2 separate regions of the Homo sapiens genome follow, and region 2 is linked to region 1. Evidence: fine-mapped expression QTL. A gene starts in region 1. The other region holds a variant in brackets. All regions are shown on one strand. Distances are between the middles of the regions. Region 1 holds the start of HPS4 (HPS4 biogenesis of lysosomal organelles complex 3 subunit 2). Region 2 has its middle 36 kb from the start of LINC01638.

What was found.
Region 2: its variant is fine-mapped to the expression of HPS4 in caudate (GTEx, PIP above 0.99).

The regions. Positions count from the first base shown.
Region 1 is chr22:26,482,216-26,485,125 of GRCh38, reverse strand. It overlaps HPS4 (HPS4 biogenesis of lysosomal organelles complex 3 subunit 2), which reads left to right and starts at 1,343. Exons shown (of 14, transcript NM_022081.6): 1 at 1,343-1,452; 2 at 2,886-2,910. SRRD (SRR1 domain containing) reads right to left here and starts at 1,249. Exons shown (of 7, transcript NM_001013694.3): 1 at 1,027-1,249. The coding sequence starts at 1,235. RefSeq lists a silencer at 1,066-1,155 and an enhancer at 1,176-1,295.
Region 2 is chr22:27,258,894-27,261,803 of GRCh38, reverse strand. No RefSeq gene overlaps it. Among named protein-coding and RNA genes, the nearest start is that of LINC01638, 36 kb to the right of the region's middle. RefSeq lists enhancers at 1,834-2,334, 2,335-2,835. The variant A/G (reference allele first, on the strand shown) is at 1,141.

The DNA of each region.
Region 1 (2,910 bases):
TGAGTTTTCCAAACCCCTAGGCACATTCACTCTCACTGGCATCCTCTGAGAGCTTAAAAATAATCGCAGGTGCTTTTTATTCAGGCTGAGCCAAATGGTCAGCAACTTTCTCTTCAGAGGTAAACTCTGGGACATTACTGCCTCTTGACCCTAATTCTAGGGGAGAGGAGCACACAAAATTAATCTAATTTCTCCCCTTGTGACGGCCCTTCGGATGCTGATCTTAAGTGCTAACTAAAGCTGTTATTTATTGAGCCTAAACAAAACTGCGAATAAAGATAATAATACTAAATAACAATAATAAGTAACATTTATTGAGTGTTTCCTCTGTATTAGGCACTCTCTATGTACTTTCTAAGGTACAGAGCAAGGTATGTGAGAATCTGGGCTGGGATAAGCAACAAGCATAATGGAAAGCTGGAAGCACTGGTTTTTGTCACAAAGACCTGGGTTTGAAATCTGGTTCCACACATTTTCTTTGTCTCTTTGAGAATCAGTGAGCTACCAGGGTCCTAGTATGCCTGCAATGTTTAACATAAAGTGTGTAGAATGATTAAGCTAATGTCAGGCACATAGCAGCTGCCTGATGATAGCAGTCACGTGTTCATGTTGCTTCCCTCGTGTCACCACCACCAATAATATCAACATCGGCATAATATTAATAGCAAACACTGGCACAGTGCTTACCACGTGCCAGAAAATGGTTTCCGTTTACTAATTCATTGAATCCTCAAAACAAACCTACGTATGTACTATTTTCATCCCCATCTCACAGATGAGAAAACTGAGGCACAGAGATTATAAATTGTCCAAGGTCACGCAGCTGTAACCGTAATAAAAGGAAAGACGACCTTTAACTGAGCGCTTACTATAATCCACATCTTTAATGAGCTCGTTACCTACGTTAACTCTTCACAATAACTCCTTAAAGGGTGTGCATTATATCTCCACTCTACAGATGGGGAGACTGTGGCTCAGAATTGCCCATGGGCGCAAAGATTCCATCAGGGCCGAGCCTGCACTCACTCAGCCTCCCAGATGCGACGAAGCACGACTCCGCTGTCAGACTCGAACTCCGCCTCGGGGCCCCGGGGCGCCGCCTCTCTCCCCCGGGGCGCCGCCTCTCTCCCCCGGGGCGCCGCCTCCCTCCGCCGCGGCCGTCGAGCCGCGGAGCGCCTCTTCCGCGGAGCCGCCGCCTGCCAGGATTCCAGCGCCGCAGCTGCGGCCGCAGCCATTGGTCTCTGACGTCAGCGGCGTGCGGCGCACTCGGCACGTCATCGCCGCGCGCCGGCTTGCCAGGAGCTGGAGGGGGAGGTAGGCGGGGCGGCGCGTGACCTAAGGCCTCTCTGCCGCGCGCGCAGGTACGGGGCAGAAGTCGCAGGTACCCAGCTGCTGCCCACATTTCTGGTCCAGAGTCCCGAACCCCGAGCACTGGGATGCCTGGCTACTCCGGTGGGTGGGCGGCGCTCGGAGCGCGGGGATACCGAGGGGCGGGCCCCCAGCTTAGAGCGTGACCCGACCCCGCCTAATCCTTAGGCGTTCGCCCACCATTTCCCAGTCCCGTAGAGCTGGGGCCAGACACCGCACAGCCCTAGTGCTGTTACCAGTCGCTGCCTGCGCCCCGGGGGCTGCGCCCAGCAGCTTCCTGGCCCTTTTCCAGCCATTAGCGTCCGTTTTCCAGCCCTGCTGCCCCACTGAGGCCCCTTCCCACAGCAGTATCACCAGCCCCAGCCCCGCGTTGTTACTATTACTTCCCAGGCTACCAGATCCTTTTCTGCTCATGTTCCGACGTCTCTTCCTACTCCAGGGCCATTATTGGTCTCTTCTGGACCTTTCAGAGATAAGAGAGGACCTCGGTAGTGTAGGGCCCAGTCCTCTGGGAACAAGGGATGGGGAGTTTTAGGCTGCTGTCCTTGGTTCCAGTAACAGAGATACCCCCTCCACAGGCACCCAAATATGCTCCATAGAATACAATGAGTGTGGTCCTGTGGAGGCCCAATCCAAAATATCTAGAGCTGAGAAGAGATAGAGATTTTACAGGCCGTCAAATATTCAATGGGGGTCGTCTCTAGAGACTTTTAACAAACTGTATTGTGTACCCACAGATTGCAGAATGGTGAGCAAACATTTGAGACCATGTTGCTAAAGCATTAAGCTTGGAGAAAGTGACAGTAAGAATTAGACAATAGTTTTGAAGTGACCAAGAGGTTGTCACATGGAAGAATTAGACCTTGTTTTGTGTTTTCCTGCAGAGCGTTATCCAGACTAGCGAGTGGGAGGCAGATGTAAAATCTGGAACGCAGATTTTAGTTTGTTGGAAGGAGAAATGTAACATAGTGAACCACGCATCTCTGGAGGGTGTAAAGCAGAGACAGCCAAGGTAATTTTTGGAAAAGAGTGCAGGAGAGTAGAGTAAACGATGCCAGGGTTCCTTCCGACTCTGAAATTCCGTGATACACTGAGCTGTCTTTCTCTTGTGGAAGTTTGAAAGCCATTTGATAAAGTTCTCTTCATTTTTTAGAAATTTGCCCTGCTCTGGAATTCTGCATGTTCAGGTTACTTTTGGACTGTCAAGATGACAGTTCCTTAATTTGGGTTCCATTATTACCACAGCAACTGGTTTATTTGTATAGCTGTCCACACCTAGAGCATTTTCACCCTGTCATTTGATTTTATCTTCCGTGAAGCTTGTGGTGTGTTTCCCTTAACTGTTCGAGAAACTAAAGCCCTTACTCTGAAGTCTCTGCAAGCCTCCCTCTTTGATTTTGAAGCATGATTGTCACCCTCACAGAAAGCTCTTTTGAAATATACCATTCGTTTAATCCTGCTGGGTCACATGCTCTCTCACGAGTTGCTGAAATATCTATTCCTTGTGTTTATTTCAGAGCCAAGGCACTGATGTTTGAACTG
Region 2 (2,910 bases), 780 kb before region 1:
TTCTAATATTTTTTGTAGAGGTGGGGGTCTCACTGTGTTACCCAGCGTGGTCTTGAACTCCTAGCCTCAAACAATCATCCTGCCTCAGCCTCCCAAAGTGCTGGGATTGCAGGCGTGAGCCACCATGCCCGGCCCGTATACTATTTTTCAACAACTCTTTCTGAGTGTCTTGAGTTGCAGGGAAATTAGGTATCCTGAGAGTAAAACTACCTTATTTTGGGCATCCTACTTGGGTGCAACGAAGTGACAGAGGCAGACGTTTGTGGCCCTTGCATCCTAGGTGGTTTTGATGCCACGAATCAATCCCTTTAAAAACCTGTGTGCTGGCACCTTGCTAGAAAGGGTTGGCAGTAACTAAGATTAATGGCTGCCATTTGTTAAGCACTTACTGTGTGCCAGGCATTGTGCAAAGTTCTCTACCTACAATTCTCCTAGGAGGTGAAGGAAAGTATTATGTCTCCTCCCCATTTTACAGATGAAGAAACTGAGGCCCAAAGTAGGCAAGTGACTTGGAGACAGTCACACAGCCAGCAAACAGAAGAGCCTGAATTCCAGCCCAAGAGCCACACTCTTCCCTACCGGAGCTTCTCACAGTTGGGTTACCACTTACGGGCGGAAATGGGAGGCTGGAGTTCAGGGGTCTTTTACATATTTCTGTATTTTTTTTCCACCATGAACATGTTTGATTTTTATAATACTAAACAAACAAACAAAAACCAAAATAAAGCCCAACCGACATCATCCAAAATAACAAGAAAAACAACAAACACCACTGTATATCTTGGTGCCCATTAAATTTTCCTTTAAATATATTGCGTGCAGCCAAGCTTCTTTCAATTCCCCTCTCCATGCACACACCAGGGCTAGCTTCTGTCGACAGTTTCGTGTATATTCTTGCAGATTTTTCTCCTATCAAATGCTAATATATATGCAGATGTATAATTTTATGAGGCTTTTAAAGTCATACATATTTTCAATATTTGATTTTTAAAAATCAATAGAAAATGTATTGCTTTGGTGATTGGGAAGAGAATAAAGATATTAAAAATTAACTCAAATTGAAAAACAACCTTGGATTGGATGTTTTGAAGTTGCAAAGTCAAAGTTCTATTCCAGAAAGTTCCGCACCAGCGAAGCTGG[A/G]TTCCCCACAGAGATGCTCAGATCCCCATGGCTTGCTGTTGCATTTGGCTCGGGGCTAGGGGAGGGGGATGCCTCTAATTCCCACCAGCTTGCCTTGCCACCCCCTCCCCACTGCCCCTGGTCAATGAGCATTGTGTTCAGTTTGTCGACTCAGCAAAACAGGCCCGCCTACTCCCTCCCTGCTCCAATTGGAAGGTGATTGCCTACCAGCCAATTAATTCTGCTTTAATTGCTCAGGCTCTAAAACGCAGGCCTGAACAGCTAATCTGGTGGGGGGGGGGTGGGGGGAGGGTGGTGGTTTGCCTGGCAGATGCTGCCCAACCAGCTCTTGGGAGATGCTCAGAGAGTCAGAAAAAAAACAATGATTCTCTGCAGGGCCCTTGGGCATTCTGGAGGGGAGGGGCCTGTAGCCATTGGAAGTGTGGCTCAGAAAATGGGCCCAAGACATGGCCACCAGCAAGAGCCAAAAAGAGAAGTAGAAAGGGGTGCATCTAGTCTTAGTTCACTGGCTCACTGTGGGAATTTGTCACAATCTGACATGATCTTGTTAATATCAGCTGCCTTTCTTGTTCAGGGCTGTAGCCAGTGCCCACCCACTGCCTGGCATATAGTAGGTGTTCAATAAATAGTGTTTGATTCAATAAACATATTCCACCCTGTCCTATCACCTCCTGCCTGCAACTACCATTGAAGTCTCCAAAGAATTGCAAGAGATAAATGCGAGAAACTGAGGCCCAGAGAAGGGAGGGGCTTGGTTTGTTCAGGCCAGTGCCTGACTCAAGCTGCCTTTCCACTTTGCTCCACATGAACTGTCCTTTTTCCAAAGCATCCTCACTCATTGTTGTGGGAGGGCTGCACAGGAGAGGAGCAAGAAGCTCCTCACTACTTTCTTTTGAAATCTGCATCTGTATTAAACACCCCCTTGACCTCGAAGCCGGCTCATTACACACCGAGTTCTCTGCTCCTCCGTCTGTGCCTGGGGGGTAACTCGGAACTGGCTCTCCTGGGGACCAGCAGCTCCAGCCCTGGAGAGGAAAATGATATGTATCTAATCTCTGACCTTCAAATGAGGACAGGGATTAATCAAGGATTTAGATGGAGGGGTGGGAGGCTGTGCAAGGAAGTGAGGGTGGGTGGCGGGCACCTCTGATTCCGTCCTCACCTCAAGCCATTGCTGGCTGCTGCAGATGCCCTCCAGGCTGGGGGAGCGATGGGCAGGAGGAAAGGGGGCTCTGGGAAGGACGAAATTGAAAGCTGAGGCAGGAGGAAGGCAGGGTGGGGAAAAGAACAAAGCAGGCAGGCATCAGAGGGCAGGAAAGCCAATAGACAAGCATGCCAGCCCATGGGGTGGAGGAACGCGCAGGAGGAAACAGGCAAAGGAAAAACAAAGAAGAGGAAGAGAGAAAGGCTAACAAGGAACTAAATAGGGCCTGAAACAAAGCCAAGGAGGAAACAAAAGGTAAGGAAAAAAACAAAAAACAAAAAACAAACAAAAAAACCAGCAGGCAGAGGAAGAAGCAGCAACAGAGAGAGAAGGGAGAAGGCTGGGGAGGCCTCCGGAATGTCATCTGCTCATGCTGAGGCAGAGACCTCGGCAAACAGCATGCCCCCAGCCTTGCCCAGGTCCCTCACTCCATCCCTGGTACCCACGGGCTCCCAGGAGCCTTTGGGGCAGACAGCTGGGCTTCCTCCTGCCTCCCCAGCCCAGCCTGCTCTGATTGGCCAGTGTCGTAGGGCAGCAAGGTGCGCCACGCCCACGCATCTCTGCTC